Homo sapiens: one gene and its partners. The protein of the gene in region 3 purifies or fractionates together with the protein of the main gene of each other region. This does not show direct contact. Each region holds a gene or a part of one and is shown on either strand. Other genes may lie near its edges.

The links. The genes of interacting proteins can lie anywhere in the genome.
Region 1: the proteins of HELLS (region 3) and HK1 purify together in Homo sapiens (co-immunoprecipitation; one large-scale study listed by IntAct). This does not show direct contact.
Region 2: the proteins of HELLS (region 3) and MYSM1 purify together in Homo sapiens (affinity purification with western blotting; one study listed by BioGRID). This does not show direct contact.
Region 4: the proteins of HELLS (region 3) and RCBTB2 purify together in Homo sapiens (affinity purification with mass spectrometry; one large-scale study listed by BioGRID and IntAct). This does not show direct contact.

What each region holds. Positions count from the first base shown.
Region 1 is NC_000010.11:69,395,347-69,399,753, reverse strand, and holds part of HK1 (hexokinase-1), read right to left. Parts: intron 1,160-4,407; coding exon 926-1,159; intron 1-925. UniProt on the Homo sapiens protein: Catalyzes the phosphorylation of various hexoses, such as D-glucose, D-glucosamine, D-fructose, D-mannose and 2-deoxy-D-glucose, to hexose 6-phosphate (D-glucose 6-phosphate, D-glucosamine 6-phosphate, D-fructose 6-phosphate, D-mannose 6-phosphate and 2-deoxy-D-glucose 6-phosphate, respectively).
Region 2 is NC_000001.11:58,657,656-58,662,062, forward strand, and holds part of MYSM1 (deubiquitinase MYSM1), read right to left. Parts: intron 3,857-4,407; coding exon 3,751-3,856; intron 3,573-3,750; coding exon 3,515-3,572; intron 2,501-3,514; coding exon 2,342-2,500; 3' UTR 1-2,341. UniProt on the Homo sapiens protein: Metalloprotease with deubiquitinase activity that plays important regulator roles in hematopoietic stem cell function, blood cell production and immune response.
Region 3 is NC_000010.11:94,593,201-94,598,515, reverse strand, and holds part of HELLS (lymphoid-specific helicase), read right to left. Parts: intron 5,018-5,315; coding exon 4,901-5,017; intron 3,822-4,900; coding exon 3,662-3,821; intron 1,657-3,661; coding exon 1,560-1,656; intron 1,482-1,559; coding exon 1,405-1,481; intron 1-1,404. UniProt on the Homo sapiens protein: Plays an essential role in normal development and survival. Involved in regulation of the expansion or survival of lymphoid cells. Required for de novo or maintenance DNA methylation. May control silencing of the imprinted CDKN1C gene through DNA methylation.
Region 4 is NC_000013.11:48,511,674-48,516,080, forward strand, and holds part of RCBTB2 (RCC1 and BTB domain-containing protein 2), read right to left. Parts: intron 4,069-4,407; coding exon 3,913-4,068; intron 3,683-3,912; coding exon 3,532-3,682; intron 1,223-3,531; coding exon 1,056-1,222; intron 502-1,055; coding exon 343-501; intron 205-342; coding exon 97-204; coding exon of another isoform or gene 4-96; exon of another isoform or gene 1-3.

The sequences.
Region 1 (4,407 bases), about 25 Mb from region 3:
AAATAATATGGTCACCCTATTCATAAGGTGAGACATGCGGTGGATCACAATCACACAGCAAGTGCAATCACATGTCCTTCTCTGGCATGGGGGGTCAGATGCCTGACCAGAGGGAGGCCACTCCCTACCCCTCCCTGCCATGAAGCCCAGGGCCCAAACCGCTCCCGCCCTTCCAAGTCTTAGCAAACTGATTCAGCAGATGAACAAGAGAGTGGCTATCCTCCTTTCCTATTTTATTTTTTGAAATAGGGTCTCACTCTGTTGCCCAGGCTGGAGTACAGTGGCGTGATCTGGGCTCACTGCAACCTCCACCTCCCAGGCTCAAGCAATCCTCTTCCCTCAGCCTCCCGAGTAGCTGGGACTACAGGCATTCACCACCATCCCTGGCTAATTTTCAAAATTTTTTTGTACAGACAAGGTCTCACTATGTTGCCTAGGCTGGTCTCAAACTCCTGGACTGAAGCAGTCCTCCCACCTAGGCCTCCCAAAGTGCTGGATTACAGGTGTGAACCACTGCACCCAGCTCCTCCCCTTTCTTAATATCCTCTCCCCACTTACCCAACAGAGCCTCTGGCCTGGCTACAGCTCACCAGGCTTATGAGTGAGCCCACGCCCACCCTCACCTCCTCTCCCACTGCCTAGCCCCCACCTAAGGGGGACCAGGAGGAGTGGGGTGAGGGTCACATCATGCCACTGGTGTGAGCTGGCCAAGTGAAGCCACTTCTCTGTCTCCCTAAGGATCCCAGTCAAACCCTACAAACTGTTCATTACCTTGTCCTAGACAATCCCCAGCTCCTGAACGCACAGCCTTCAGCCTGGCTGGGCTCCCGCAGGGCATTTCCCCAGCGTAAACCACACCCTGATACCCCCTAACCCAAAGGGATCCCAGCAAGCTCTGCGCATCCCAACTGGAAGGCCCACTCACTGTGGATGAAGCTTGTAGAGTGTCCCGTCCACTCCCACAGTCACATTCAGACGGTCCAGTCCTCTGTTCTCGCGGATCTTATCCACAACCGCAGCCATGCCTGCGCCACACAGCTGTGCGGCCCTCCTGGACACCACCCCGCACACTGTCTTGACGAGGATACTGTCATCGCAGGTGCTATTCAGACCTAGCTGCTGGAGGATAGCCCGGACCTGGAGCAGTGCTAATCGGTCACTGTGGGGGACAAGAGCCAGAGGGCTGGATGAAGCAGGACCCACAAGAGCAGCCTGGAGACCACGTCCAAAGGACGCCCCCCGCCCCCAATCACTGTACTCATCCACAGACAGAGTCAAGGGCAAGTGTTACATGTTAAACTGTGGAGAATTTGGCAAATCTAGCAAAATAAAAATTGGAAAATCTAAACCATTCACTATCTCAACATCTAGGAAAATGCTATTAACATTTTAATATATTTCCTTCCAGTTTATTTTTCCTAGCTGGTATGCTTCTCATGATATGCAAAATGGGATTATCCTTGATATGTGATTTTCTTTCTCTTTCCTGTTTCATGCATTGAGCAATTTCCCACAGCCTTATCTGAGAACAGGATTGGAAACAGCTGCTGCAGTATTCCCTCTAGGGATGCACCATGATTTCTTTAGCCAGCTTGGAGAAATTCAAGTTAATTGCAATTTTCTGCTATTATAAAGAAACATTTTGATAAGGTTTGTTTATAAATCTTTGTGTGCAATTCTGATGTTTTTCCTTAGGATAAATTTCTGGGTCAACGAGCTTTTGCTACACATTGCCAGATGCCTTACAGAAAATTGTATCCATTTACTCTTCAGCAGAGTATTTGGCCACACTTATCCTCACTGGAAAAGAGCATTTTTTTACAACTTTTGACAGTTTTATAAGAAGGCATCACAAGACTGTAGTTCAATTTATATTATTCTCTATTAGTGAGGATGATCTCTTTTTTTTCCATTTGTTTTTTGGCCATATAAACTACTTCTTACGTCTCAAGACTTTTCTCCTGATATATTTGTCTTATTTATATTAAATTGAAAGAGACGATAACTGGGATGGTACAATGAAGACCAGCCAGGCTTCTTGGAGGACTTACCATGTAACATATATTTTACATACATTACCTTACTTACTCCTCAAACAACCAATGAATGTATGATTATTCCCATTTTAAAGATAAGGCAACTGAGGCTGGGAGAAATTGAGTATTGCAAAGCACACAGCCGGTGGAGAAGAGCAGGTGTAGACCAGACCTGCCAAAGCCCACCATGCCCTGCTAGGCGTCTTGTCATACACAGTACAAATGTCTTCCTCAGTTTACCGTTGCCTTTTAAGTTTGATTACTTTTTTTTTTTACTTACAGACACTATGTAGCTATATTTGGCCATTTTTCTTTATGATTTCTTTCTTTGCTATTATGCTTGAAAAGACTTTCCATACCACTTCATACCCATTAGGATGGCTATTCTCAACTCAGAAAATAACAAGTGTTGGCGAGGATGTGGAGAAACTAGAACTTTCACGGGCTGCTGGTGGGAATGTAAAATGTTACAGCCACTGTGGAAAACAACATGGTGGTTCCACAAACAACTGAACAGGGAATTACCATATGATCCCGCAAGTCCACTTGGGGTGCGTACACACACACACACAAACTGAAAGGAGATACTGGTCACCCGTGTTCACAGCAGCATTTGTCACAATATCCAAAAGGTGGAAGCAAGCCAAGTGTCCATGGATGGATGAATGAATAAACAAAATGCAGTGTGTGCATGCAATGGAATATCACTCAGCCTTAAAAATAAGGAAATTATGGCCGGGCGTGGTGGCTCATGCCTGTAATCCCAGCACTCTGGGAGGCCAAGGTGGGCAGATTACCTGAGGTCGGGAGTTTGAGACCACCCTGATCAACATGGGGAAACCCCATCTCTACTAAAAATACAAAATTAGCCGGGCGTGCATGGTGACGCACGCCTGTAATCCCAGCTACTCAGGAGGCTGAGGCAGGAGAATCGCTTGAACCCAGGAGGCAGAGGTTATGGCGAGCCAAGTTTGCACCATTGCACCCCAGCCTGGCCAACAAGAGTGAAACTCCGTCTCAAAAAATAAAAATAAAAAAATAAGGAAATTCTAACACATGCCACAATACGGATGAACCTTAAGACATTATGCTAAGTGAATTAAGCCAGTCACAAAGGACAAATGCTGTATGATTCTATTTATATGAAGTATCCAGAGTTGTCAAATCCATAGAGACAGAGAGTAGAATGGTGGTTGCTGGGGTGGGGGGAGGGAGGAATGTGGAGTTAGTGTTTGCTGCGTACAGAGTTTCAGCTGAGAAGATGAAAAGAGTTCCGGAAATGGATGGTGGTGATAGCTGTGCGACTATGTGAATGTACTTAATGTCACCGAACTGTATACTTAAAAACCATTTTGCCTGGGTAAGAGCAGTGTATAGGCTTGTTAGGTTTTTTTTTGTTTAAGGTTTAATATTTTTTTTCTTTTCTTTCTCTTTTTTTTTTTTTTTTGAGACAGAGTCTGTCTCTGTCGCCCAGGATGGAGTGCAGTGGTGCAACCTCAGCTCATTGCAACCTCCGCCACCGGGCTCAAGCCATCCTCCCACCTCAGCCTCCCAAATAGCTGGGACCACAGGAATGTGCCACCACGCCCGGCTAGTTTTTGCACTTTTTGTAGAAATGGGGTCTTGCCATGTTAACCAGGCTGGTCTCGAACACCTGAACTCAAGTGATTCACCTGCTTTGGCCTCCTAAAGTGTTGAGATTACAGGCATGAGCCACCGTGCCCAGCCTACACAGAGCCTACGTTAGGTTATTATGACCATTCTAAGAAGAACACAGTATTTGCACAATTGCTTTTGTTTTTTCTGACCCTTTTTTCCTCCTTCTCACACAGCGTGCCTTAGAAGACAGCAAAGGCCAGGAAGAAATGTACCCTGGACAGGAGAAAAGTAGAAAGAAGGTGGAACAACTTGCTGAGGGGCATCAGCTCCTGGGTGGCCTGGCACTGAACCCCAGGCTGCCTTTCAGATAAATCCAGGTGGGCCCTATGCACCCCCAATACAAGTATGTGTAGTGCATCTTTACCATCTGAAATGGAATCCATATGGCCCTCTTACACACATAATTTCAAATAAATCAATATAATGCCCCAACATAAAGGATGGATAAAAGGAAAGTAAGTAATTTACTTATTTATTGAGATGCAGTCTCGCTCTGTTGCCAGGCCAGGCTGGAGTGCAGTGGCGCGATCTCAGCTCACTGCAACCTCCACCTCCTGGGTTCAAGTGAGTCTCCTGCCTCAGCCTCCCAAGTAGCTGGGATTACAGGCATATGCCACCACACCCAGCTAATTTTTTGTATTTTTAGTAGAGATCGGGTTTCACCATGTTAGCCAGGATGGTCTCAAATCTCCTGACCTCATGATCCGCCTGC
Region 2 (4,407 bases), on a different chromosome or scaffold from region 3:
GTTTTTTTAAATAGTAGCACTGAGATATTTGTACTTCACACTTCTCTGTATTTTAAAATATACTTTACAAGACAAATGTACTCTATAGTCAGAAAATACTAAGTATTATTTTGAAAACTGTGCTCTCAAGGCCCCAAACTCTTGACAAGTATCATCCTTGAGATCCTCGCAATATGGCTTAGATTAGCAAATATGGTTAAACATTGGCACACAGGGCAAGGAGACTCAGATTTGAGAGCAGAACTTTTAACAATTTCCATTACTTTCCATCACCCAAATTCATCAGTATTATAGGGAAATGTCAATCAAGAAAGCTAGTATAAAACACTTTTTAGTATTTGTTCCCCAATATATCATGAGGAAACAGGTCAAAAGGAAGATGAGTACAAAGGAATCAATCACTGCCTTTCACAGAATCACGCAACTTCGGAGCTTGGAAGGGAATACTAAGCCATAAAATTCAGGCCCTTGATTTACTGGTGAGGAGCATGGGGTCCAGGTTATGTGTTTTGATTAAGGTCACACAGCAAAGTTGGTAACAGAGTTAGGGTAAGAGCTCAGGTTTCCTGACTTTTGGTATAGTTCCTCTTACACTCTCAGCCCTCAAACTAATTGTTTTATAAGCTATACTTCACTGTTTATCCTAAGTGCACACAGAGAAATGGAAAAATACTACCCTTTTTTTTTTAAATGTATGTTAATTTGGAAACTGTATTAACTCAAAATATAAACTTCACAAGAGTAGTCCAACGATTAGAATGAACAATAAAATTTTAGTTCTGGAAGGACATTAAGAAGTTAAGTTAGACTTCAGTTACACAAGAATTAAGGCTCAGGGAAAGTAAACTGTATCTCCCCAAATCACAAAGTTGAGACAAGAACCAGGTCACCTAAAGCTGACTCACTGCTTCTTCCAATACTCCTTATTCTTCATTGGCTATTGATTACAAACAAAGCAAAATATAGAATCAATCTGATTTAGATATAAGGAAACGTTAGTAAGAATGTTTGGTGAATAGCTATAAATCAATTCTCTGACTACTAAGAAATAAACTAAAATCTACTGAATTTCAATAAATGAGGCAGCATTGACTGCTTATTTTATTTTAAAATTGGCTTAAATGCAGATCATAATTCTGAGTTTTGGTGTCATTTGAAGATGACGTAAAGCTTAACAAATGTAAAACAAAATTCTAATGTTTAAAATTCTCTAGATCAAGGGTTGGAGAATAATAGCCAACAGCCTATGTTTTATGAGGCCTGTGAGTTAACAATGGTTTTTATCATTTTAAAGGGCTGTAAAACACACACACACACACACACACACACACACACACACAAAGAAGAATGTCTCATAGACATCATATGTGGCCTGAAAAGCCAAAATTATTTACAAACTGGCCCTTTACATTAAAAAAGTTCACTGACCTCCATTATAGATTCAGAAAGCATATGAAACTGGGCTGAATATGTAACATGTCCTGAAAGGCTTGTTTTAAAAATTAAATCTCTGATTTATTCCAGCTTTATTATCATTTGCCTCTTTCTCCTAGTAGTAGGCAGTAGAAAAAAAGTTTGAGTTATGATTACCTATGTTCCAGTTAAATGAGGTTTTATCACACCTACTAATGTAAGTGGACTCACAATTGAAGCTAATTATTTTATGTGTGTAAAATTGGTTAAAAATTTTCAGATAGCTGAGAAAATGGCATATCTTATGATACTACTGCTATACAATGAAATGGAAGATAGTATCTATGATTAGAAACTGGTAATTTAGTTCTCTCCTTTGGGTTTTTCCTGTTTTTAAGATTTTCTTGTCATGCCTCTCCTGGTCTCCTGTTAGATTTATTAATCAGTAGTTCTAAACCATATTAATTATCTCAGTGACCACCCATCCATATCTCATTTATAGCCATAAACAAATCTCAGCAGAATATATGGAAAGAATGGAAGTGCTTTTAAATGAAATAGGAGATACCACAATGGAACATAAATGACTAGTTCAGGGAAGAAATGACTTAGAGACATAGTCCAAATCCCAAGCTGAACACAACAGTAAAGCCGACCAGGTTGCTTAGTTTCACAGCCTACAGCATTGCTCAGTAAAGGACTAGAACACCGTGGTGGACCCTGGTTTGCAGAACACTCTGATAATCACTATATGAAAACAAATTTGTATCTCTTCCTTTTCACATGATTTATGTGGCAAAGTTTGGATTTTGTGAAATAGAGAAAAAATACCAAAGCTGTGCCAATGTTAACTACAATCACTTCAAGTTTATAACTTTGAAAGTAAGATCTACTGTGTCAAGATTAAAATGTCTTAACTTTAAAATAATCACATTAACAATTCCTTTGTACAGTTCTCTTCGGTTACTCCATTCTCTTGGTTGCTTTTATAATTGGAAAGGAACAAATTTTCTATTTCAGTCAAGAATTCTTCAGCCATAAAGCAATTGGTCACTTTGCTCAGAGTCTTCCTCATACACTCCAAAAGCTAGTTGAAAAGAAAAGTTTTATATTTAAATACAGAAAAAGTATGAGGGTTTGCATTACTATCACTATTTCGTCCCTTTCCAGACCTCACATTTCCTAATGCTCAAATGAGAAACACTCTCCTTAAAAATGGTTGAAGATTAACTTGTGTTTAATAGTCACAGAGCTGGAATGTAGGAAATTGCTGCTGAGGAACACTCAGCTTAGTACTTTTATGATTTTACATAAGGAGACAAACCTGAGATTGTTTATGTGATGCTTTCTACTTCGGACGTATTTGCGACTTTTCTCCATTTGTAGTTACACTTACAAAGCAAAATAATCCTGAGTATACACACACACAAAAATCTAGGTACATAAAAACATAGGATTCTGCATTTCAAAATGAGGATGCTAGCTGGAGTCTATTTCCTTGGAAATGTGCACATACTTTTTCAACAACACACAAAAAACTGGATATAACAGAAAGGAGTAAAACATATTAAAAAGAAACTTAATGTTTAAATTTTCTATCCCCAATTGCTATTTAAAAAGACAAATGTTGCAGATCTACTAGCCTTCAATCATTACAGAAGCAAAACCTAGACGTGAACTGACAGAATTCAAAACTCTTATTTCCTATTAGAAAGTTAAATAAAATGACTATTTAAATTTAATTGTTAGATTTATACCATCATTCTTAAAAATGACCAATTGTTAAGGCTAAAATGGAAACATGGCACTTTCAAATTTAATAAAATAAGAAAAATGTTCTCCATTGTGTATAATAATAATCTGCTAAAATCAGCCAACACTGACAAATTTATTCTAAAATAGAATTTTTTCTATGTGCAAGCTTGGGCAACAAAAAACGTTACTAATTATCTCCTAGAAATTAATTTTCCAAAGGAAAAAGTAATAAAAGAAATATACAGAAAATTATCCACAAAGTATTAGGCATCATGGGAAAACACATTGAGATGAATAGCTTCAGAATCTGTGAACAATGGAACCAATTAAAATGAAGACAGCTTACTTTCTGCAAACAAGTCAGGTCAGAATCCCGGCGAAAGATTTTATCCATGGGGACGCTGCTGTAGGAAGAAATATGAAAACAAACTGGTGAAACGAATACTATAAACTAATCAGTTTCATAATAAACTATCACGGATGCCATACATCACAATTTTATATTTAACTTGGGTTTTCTCTGAAACATAATTTAATGAGCAACACTGCAGATGTGCAACCATCTCAAACCACAGTACATACCTATGGGAGAGCCTGTATTTTTCTATTATCCATCTTGTCTTTTCAAATACTAATCCCCACTGAGGTTCTTCTAACATCTGCTGTACTTCAAATTTGTAAGGTAAGCCTAGAAAAGCATAAAGAAGCACATTGTCATCAACTATTTCTTAACTCTCCAATCTCCTTTTAATTATACTTAAAATTCCCTTCGGTGTTTTTACAGCCATAGCTTTGCAGATCAGCTGAACAGCACTTTAAACATAGTGGGCATTCATTAAATATTTATTGCCCGATTGTACTTGGTCCACTAAGCATATTAATGCCAAGCTATTAATAATAATAATGAGTAAAAGTGCCATTTACATGACAATTCTACGCATGGCACTATGATGGGATGATCACGTAATTTATCACCTAAACCAAGAGACTTTTTGAATGAAAGAAGGTACTATTAATAATTATGCCTGAACCGCAGGTTTAAAGTGGGATTATCCTAGACAAACTAAGACATATTGCCATCCTAGTGATAATTAAAAATATATATATATACAGGTTATTAAGCTTACAACAATGCTGTAAGTTATTGTTTTTTTTTTAACAGGTGAGAAAACTGAAGCTGAGATACATTAAAAATCATATTTAGGCTAGCAAAGTGGCAGGACACAGATGTTAAAACCC
Region 3 (5,315 bases):
TGTAGCCAGTGCCACGCAGGTAAATGTTTAACAATTGGGTCTCAAAAAAAACAAAAACTGAGGCACAATGGCTCATGCCTATAATCCCAGCTTACTCCAAAGGCTGAGGCTGGAGGATCCCTTGAGCCCAGGACTTTTAGGCTGCAATGAGCTATAGTCGCACTCCTGCATTCTAGCCAGGAATACAAAGCAAGACCCTTTTTTGTTAAAAACAAAGACTGGGGTTTCTAGTTTCTGCCTGTATCCGTGATATGAATGTTACTGCCATCACCAATTTCAAAAGACCAAAATGTCACGGAATACAGTTGGGAAAAAAAGATTATACAGTATCTCCACCATACAGATGCAACAGACAAATAATCAATAGCCTAGACGACAGTAATATGTTGTAAAATAATTAGGAAATTATGAAGTACAAAATATTATTTTTGTTTTCAAAATAATTCATGGTCATCACTGTAGGCATCAGATCATAAGGTGGTATTCTAAAAACTGATAAAAAAAAAAAAAAGAAGCAATATATCCTGGCTCTCTTCTATCTCAGGGAAACTGTAAGGGAAAGTTCTTAAATAACCCAGCTAATAAAAGAATGACAGAACAAGAAAAATCACCATTTTGCAATGATTAAGTTAATAATGGTTCTTATCAGCCACTTTCAAGGGATACTAAAAATCACCACGTTAGGCTTGGTGCAGTGGCTCATGCCTGTAATCCCAGTGCTTTGGGAGGCTGGGGTGGGCACAACACCTGAAATCAGGAGTTCAAGACCAGCCTGGCCAACATGGCGAAACCCTGTCTCTACTAAAGATACAAAAATTAGCCAGGTGTGGTGGCAGGCGACTGTAATACTAGCTACTAGGGAGGCTGAGGCAGGAGAATCCCTTGAACCCAGGAGGCTGAGGTTGCAGTGAGCTGAGATCGTGTCAGCGCACTCCAGCCTGGGCGACAGGGCAAGACTCTGTCTCCAAAAAAATAAAATAAAATAAAATAAATCATCGTGTTAAGTAAAGGATGAAGGCTGACAAGACACTTTATAACATTATCTTGATTAATCTTAGCTCACTGGAAATAAGAAATCCAGATACGATGTGCCTCCTGGTATGACGAAAAATATGAGAACAAAGCACTGGTATTCTTAACTAAGACAGGAACTTGAATATATTCATTTACAAGTGTTATTTACCAGTTTACAGAAAATATCTGAATTATGGAAGAAGTTAAAGATAATGACATTTATGGGCAAAATGTCATGTCTGAGATTTGATTTTAATACTCTAAGAAGAAAAATGACAATAAAACAAGATTGGATACATGTGGCTGAATGAATTGCACAAGGGGTTCATTACATTATGCTAATTAAGTGTATGTTTCGAAGCTTCCATTAAAAAAAAGCATAATACTTACCAATAAGATCACTTCGATCTAACAACAACTCTAGATCTTTATCACTAATGACCTTCTCTCTTGATCCTTTTATTTCCCTATAGAAAACAAAATATTCAAGTCTATGTGAATAATTCAAAGCTACAAATTAAATCTTTCTAAAATTAAAAACTCACCTTTCATAATCTCTAGATTTTAATAATTCCATTAATTCCTTAGGATCTAAGAAATTCTTAGACAGATTTAATCCAGACTGACCACCTTTGAAATGATCTAAAAAAAATGAGAAATTAAAAACATTAAAATTCCTTTTAAAACTACAATACAACATATTACAAACCAATCACAATGGCTTGCATTAAGAAGGACGGCAAAAAAAAGTGTTGATAAAAAATAAAAGCAAATGAAGCTCTCAGGCTTCGCTGGTAGGACTGGAAAATGATATGTCCACTTTGGAAAAGGCTGGTAGTTTCCAGTAGTTAAACACGCACCCTCCCTAAGATCAAGGACCAAAAAATGCATTATGTCCACAAAGACTTGTACAGGACCAACTTATTCATAATAACCAGAATCTAGAAATAATTTAAATGTCGACCAACAGGAGAATGGAAAAAACAAACTATTCACCAATTAAAAGAAAAAAATTCTACTAAAAACAACACAGATGACTCTGTGTTGAAAAAATATATTCAACAAAATAGCTAAACAGAAAAAAGACTCATCAGTGTGACAAAAATCAGAATACTGGATGCTTCCTAGTGATGGTAAGGGGAGCATAGGAATTACTGGAAAGGGTGAACAAAGAAAATTTCTTGGATGATGAAAATGCTACCTTGATCTCGATGATAGTTACATAGGAGTACATAAATCTGGTCAAACTTCATTAACCTGTACATTTAAGATCTGTGCATTTTGCTGTATGTATGTAATAACTCAACTGAAAAATGTCAGCATTTAAAAAAATCCCTTCAAAATTTTCTACAAAATTAATCTACTAAAAAATCGAAAATAGGGCTGAGCACAGTGGCTCACACCTATAAGCCCAACACTTGAAGAGGCTAAGGCAGGAGGATCACTTGAGTCCAGGTGTTCGAGAACAACCTGGGTAAAAAAGTTAAATGGTCTCTTAAAAAAAAATTATGCTTTTTCCCCAATGCAAGTTCCAATTACAATCTAAATGTTTCACCAAATTAATTTTGTCTAAACCTTAATACACTCTTACCTCAAAACCCAGAGAAAGTATTTACAAGTGGAAAAGGAGTATAAAATAAATTATTAGTGATTTCCAACATTACTTTTCACATTAACATTATCATGTTCCCATTTCTCTAGGGCTTGATGATTTACATAAATGATTTTCAACATTTCTTCAGGTAGCTATCAAGCCATTTATTCAAAGAAAATTTTATGGTGAATGGATAGAAGTATAACTTCTCTAAGGAATCTCAGGAACAAAACTTTTTCACCTATGTCAGTTCCCCACCTCCTCAGAATTTTTTCTAGATTAAAAAGCATTGTTGAGACCCATCTGGTTATGATAAGGAAATGAAAAAGGAAAAAAAAGTGTCCAAAACTATAAAAAGGGCATTCTGCAGTGAAATATTCTGTGAAACAGTGGGTTCAATAAATAAATAGATTTTTTATAACACTTAAATACACTTAATATTTTAATACATGGAACTTGCAAAATATTTATCTTAAAACTTTTAGCAAGCCAATCTCTTATCAGGAACATGTAGTTATCCTTGACCCCTTTTCTCTGCCCATCTGCTCTTCATCTACATATCTACATACTCGCTAACATTCTTTCTTTTATGTCTATGGTGACCAACTTAGTTTAGGCTCCCAAATTCCCCACTGCTTATTTAAATCCTGTCATATCAGGCTGTTAATATTTTTTTTTTTGAGACAGAGTCTTGTTCTGTTACCCAGGCTAGAGTGCAGTGGCACGATCTCGGCTCACTGCAACCTCCTCCTCCCGGGTTCAAGCGATTCTCCTGCCTCAGCTTCCTGAGTAGCTGGGATTACAGGCGCCCGCCACCGAGCCCAGCTAATTTTTGTATTGTTAGTAGAGACGCGGTTTCACCATCTTGGCCAGCCTGGTCTCGAACTCCTGACCTCGTGATCCACTCACCTTGGCATCCCAAAGTACTAGGATTACAGGTGTGAGACACAGAACTCGGCCCAGGCTGTAATATTTTATAAACAAAATAAAAACAAAATCCACAACACACAATGCACAATTTAAACAATAAAGCACTACATAAGTGTTATTTACTTTTATGGATGATCAACTTTTCCAGTTTCCTTTTAGCAGCTGCTCTTTCCACAATTTTCTGATCGATAGTATTTGCTGTAACAAGGCGATAAACAACAACTGGCTTTGTCTGACCAATTCTATGACATCTATCCTGGGCCTGAAGATCCGACTGGGGGTTCTTAAAGTTAAAAAGAAAAATAATATTTAACGGTATTAGGTTAAAATTAACATAAACTCATGTGGATAAAGTCAACATGAATGATCTAGCCAGGAACTTTTAAATAGTGGTGTCTTAATTTAAACTTCCAGAGTGGCTTCATAGACAAAATTATCATTCCACAGATCCTTGACAATATTAACAAAAAAGTTTAAATACCCTAAAGAAAACATTTCAGGATGGGCACGATGACTCACTCCTATAATCTCAGCATTTTGGGAAGCCAAGGCAGGAGGATCATATGAGGATACAAGACCAGCGTGGGCAAACAGTGAGACGTGGTCTCACTAATTTTTACATTTTTTGTGGGCATGGTAGCACACCCATAGACCCAGCTACTTGAGAGAATGAGGTGGGAGGATCACTTGAATCCAAAAGGTCAAGGCTACTGAGCCGTGATGGTGCCACTGCACTCAAGCCTGGGTGATAGTGAGACCCTGTCACTAAAAACAAAAGTAAAAAAAAATTTTCAATTTTTACTTGCAAAAAACTTTATGAAGAAATAACTCTTAGCTGAAAATGGGTATCTTTTCAAAATAGATAAGTAAATTTGTAACATGTACCATTAAAAATTAAAAATTCAGAATGGCCGGGCGCGGTGGCTCATGCTGGTAATCCCAGCACTTAATCCCAGCCTGGGCAACAAGAGCAAAACTCCTTCTCAAAAAAAAAAAAAAAAAAAAATTCAGAATGGAGGCTGGGTGTGGTGGCTCAAGCCTGTAATGCCAGCACTTTGGGAGGCCGAGGTGGGCGGATCACCTGAGGTCAGGATTCAAGAGAGCCTGGCCAACATGGCAAAACCCCGTCTCTACTAAAAACACAAAAATTAGCCAGGCATTGTGGTGTACACCTATAGTCACAGCTACTCAGGGGGCTGAGGCAAGAGAATCACTTGAACCCAGGAGGTGAAGGTTGCAGTGAGCCGAGATCGTGCCACTGCACTCCAGCCTGGGCAACAGAGTGAGACTCCATTTCAAAAAAAAAAAAAAATTCAAAATGGAAATATAATCAGCATATTCCTTGCTATACTTCCAACTTACCCAATCACTATCATAAATGATAACTGTATCTGCTGCAGTCAGATTAATGCCCAGGCCACCAGCTCGTGTACTCACTAAGAAGATAAACACCTCTGGATCCGTGTTGAAGCTGTGCATCTAAAAGCAAAAAGGATGTAAATACAACAGATTAAAATAAATTAACCAACAAGACTGAAGGAGAAAAATGTTTTCAATTACAACTATTAAAGACTTAAACAAAGGAGGCCAAACAAATCATTCAGATCTATAAAACAATTATGTTAACAAAACCTGTGCTGTTAGCTTTATCGTCCAAGCACCTATATTAAAGAGATCTTAATTTTGTTAAAAACCATGTATCACAACAATGTTTAAATAAGAAAAGCTAATATCAAAAAATGATGAAAAAATTGTAGTTGTCTAAACACATGGGGTG
Region 4 (4,407 bases), on a different chromosome or scaffold from region 3:
TTTTCATCCTGCCAACAAATCTATGTTTTTAATACATTGATATCTTTGCCAGCGAAGACTTAAAAATACACGCACACAAACTGACAGTGGACGTACCCTCTGGACACGGATGCCTTGCAAAGCTGCCACTCTGCAAGGGGTTGGCTGGTTGCCACTGTTGCCGAGTCCAAGCTGCCCGTTTCCGTTGTAACCCCAGACATAGACCTGAGAGAAAATGAGACCCTCAATCCTCTCAAGAGACAAATGGCCAGCAAGCTGTCTGTTATGTGGGACATACCATACTGGCATGAGACTGATGTGGCAAACACGGTTTTTAAACAAGATGTAAAATAACTTCCTTACCTCCCCCGTGTCTACTACTGCCATGCAGCACATCTGCCCACATGCTATGGTCACAACTACTTTATTTTGTAGGCAGCCAGTGACTCTTCGAGGGATTGGCTGATTAACTGTTGATCCAGATCCTACCTGCCCAGAGTTATTATAACCCCAGGCAAATACCTGTTTAAAGGAAAGATCAGTAAATGAAACAGATTAATTTATAAACTGTCTCAACTGGACACTGACATGTACTTGTGGCACCGAGTCTTTCCTCTCAAAGTGCTTCACATTCATAAATCCTCACAACACAGGCAGAGAAGTGTTTATAAAATGCATTCTTATACAATGTACATGATTTTATACAATTAGGTTATTGGTGTTATCTATACAAACAGTAATAATTACTATTAAATAAAATGTAACACAAAAGTATCTACTTTGCCCCAGCCATCTTTTCCAGCATTTGGGGATTTTTCTTATTGCAAATAACCTCTTTACTACAGCAACAGAGAAGGAACAATACCTCCTTTTAAATTTTGCAATTATGGAAGACCTTACTACGTACAGGTAAATGTCACAACATCAACACCCTGACTGTGAATTGCTACCAAAAATAAGGCTGAATTTGAGGGAGGTGGTTATTTTAATCAAATGATTGTATTTCCAGGACTACTATAGAAGTCTACATAATCTTATTGAAAAAAATCAATGAGCTTTATGCTGACTGTTCTCACCTCTCCATCAGATGTTAGCACCAAAGAATGGTAAGACCCACAGGCAACTTCAATGACTTGTTTGTTTGACAGATTAGTAGAGATATGACAGGGCACTAAACCATGATTAGTTGTCCCATTGCCCAGCTGGCTATAAGCATTATGACCCCAGGTAAAGACTTCTCCTTCTGAAAATAAAAAGAAAGACAATCAGTTTTTTACAACATCTACTTCATTATACGAAAATATATGTAGCACAGCTTCCACAAATGAAATCTAAAAATTCAGGTGCAAAAAGCTAATCAACTTCCCCATTCCACCAAAGTCATTCTACAAAAGAATCTATTTGGAAAGTATAAACTGCATTCTACCTCAAAGCAACAAGGTGAAATTTAAATGCATGCAGTTATAATAACTGGAAAATAAGTTTTTAATAAAGAGCAGAGAAAAGGCTGCTGGGAGTAATAGCAAAAACATTAGAATGAAGTCAAATATTAGAAGGCCACTTAACTCCCCTAGGTCTTAATTTCCTTATCTTTAAAATAATCACCAAGTTGATTTTTAAAAATCTTTGTTATTATTTATTGGGTAGCATAATATACAGAAAAGTTAATAAAACATATATGTACAGTTTTACAAATTAGAAAGCACACACCCATGTACTACTACTTAAGTCAAGAAATATAACCTTATAATCACCCCCCAAAAGGCCCTCACATATGCATCTTGCATACAAATGTTTAGTTTTTCCTGTTTTTGAAATTTAAATAAATGGAATCATACAGTTTGTACTCATTTCATCTGTATTTTCCAGCATGTTGTCTCTTAGTGTTATATTCTGAATAGTGACTTCTCATTTATCTTCTGGTTTACTAATTTTACTAATTTGCTGTGTTCAAACTGCTACAAAATTTGTCCACTGAATTTTCATATTGATAATCATATTGTTCATTTGGATCTTTTCAAATCTTCTATAATCCCTGCAGATTATTTTCAAGCTCATTTTAATTTCTTCAAATAATAAATACAGCTGTCTTATAATTGGTGTCTGATAATTTTAATGCCTGATATTTAGTAATCCGTTCTTGCTGTCTGTTGTTTCTTCTGGTTCCCATTCATGGTACCTTGTTTCCTTGCATAGCAAGCCCCCCTTATCTGCAGGAGATACATTCTAAGACTCTCGTACTGAACCTGTATATACTGTTTTTCCCTATACGTATATACTTATGATAAAGTTTAATTTGTAAGTTAGGCATAGTAAGAGATTAACAACAATAACTAATAATCAAAGAGAACAATTACAAAATGTACTGTTCACAATGTCACAGATAGAAGATTTGTTCTTACCATAAATCTTAACAACCTCAGCATGGAAACTCTCCATTTTTCATTTAAAGCAAGAACCGTATGGTTTCTCTTTGGCATATCCAAATTGCAAGCATCACTACTCTTGCACTTTGGGGCCATTATTAAGTAAAATAAGGGTGACTTGAACACAAGCACTATGAAACCAAGAGAGTCAATCTAATAACTGAGACAGCTACTAAGTAACTAACGGGTGGGAGTGTCTATGGCAGAGATGCTGGACAAAGGGATGGTTCATGTCCCAGCTGGGATGGAGCAAGATGGTGAAATATCACCCTACTCAGAATGGCACACAATTTAAAACTTATGAATTGTTTATTTTGGAAATTTTACATTTATACTTTCAGACCACAGTCAACTGCAGGTAACTGAAACTTGAGAAAGTAAAACCAAGGATAACGGGAGACTACTGTATATCTGGTTATCTCTGACTATGTGCTGCCTATTGCCACTGAACAATTATTTTGGTTAATTCTCTCAGGCCTAGGATAAAGGTGCCTTCCCCTAGAAAGGATCTGCATTAACTTCTATCATGCCCTTAAGGCACTTGCCATCCAGTACCTTGAATAAATTCAAGGGTTGAGATTTCTTGGACCGTTCAGTCTTGATGTGAATTAAACTACAAATCCATGGTTACAACCTTTTGGGGAGAAGTTTTATTTATTTTCTTCCTTTTTTCCTCCTTGCTTCACTCAGAGCAAGGAATTTTTCTAGTCAATCCCTTATGAAGTGGCTAATCCCTACTACTAATGCCAACTACAGCCATCAGTCACTCTTTAGTGTAAGAATCACAGAATGCTAAGAGTTGGCGGGGGGATGTTGGACACAAGGTTTAGTCTTTCAATTCATAGATCAAGAATCCAAAGTTCAGACAGACTTGCCAAAGTCCACAATCAGTTCGTCAGTGTTTACTGGGCTTACAGCGTTGTCATTCATACATCTAAAATGCCAATGATTCCTAGATTCCATCTGCCACATCACCTTATGCTGGCATTCAGATACATTCATGTTTTATGGTATCCAAAACATAGTCAATTTCACAGGAAGAGCTAGCAACTCTCAACCAATTAAACAATGTTCTCAAGGGCAGCTGCGAATAAAGCTGAAATTCTACATGGGGTTCCTAGGTTACCTGTTGTTGCAAGGACAATATGTGGACCACTCCCATAGCTGAGGCAGGCTATTTTTTTGCCATTTAAAGAATCCAGTCTCCGAGGTTCAATGGTGCTCTGGACGTCACCTAACCCCAAACAGCCACAGCAGTTTGTGCCAAGCACAAAAATCTATGGGAAAAACCACTGTTAGTTCAAGCAGTTCTATTTCTAACAAATCTATAAATTACATCCAAACAGGAATCATCTTCCTTAAGCAAACTGCTTCTTTATATAATAAATAAAACCTAATTTCCATGCTTTTTTTTTTAACCTTTTATTCCTTAGTTCCCCCAAGATCTTCAATTTGGCAAATCCATTTCTAAAAATGTGAGTAGCTGATTTATTTTCTTCAAAATTACCTCATCATTTACTGTAGTGTATAAAACTTCATTGCCAGCACTGCCAAAGACACAAGCCTGACGAATTAACTGTAGTTCTTCTTCAGAACAAAGGGAAAAAATTGGCCACTTTCCCACATCTAACATCTTCAAAGATGACAGAGTAGCCTGTACTGGCTGAAAAGGAAAAAATATATGTTGAAATGACAAATTAAAAAGTGAATTTTCTCTGCCCCTTCAGTTCTGTAGAAGAGGGCGAACACTGGTTTTGGGAGGAACACACTGCATCCATTTTTGAGAGGCCTCTCGCAGCTGCAGGGATTGCCTCTGCCAGCTGCTTTTGGGCGGCTCACAGCCATCGAGCAGCGGAGGCCCGGATGGAACCAGGTCTCCCCTACTCATTGTCCTCAAGGACACAGGAGTCATCCAAAGCTGGGCTTCTGGGAACTGAATGTTCAGCAGATACTTTAAATATTGGCTATGTCTTAAAAGTAGCTGTGGAAACTAGGCTGGTTG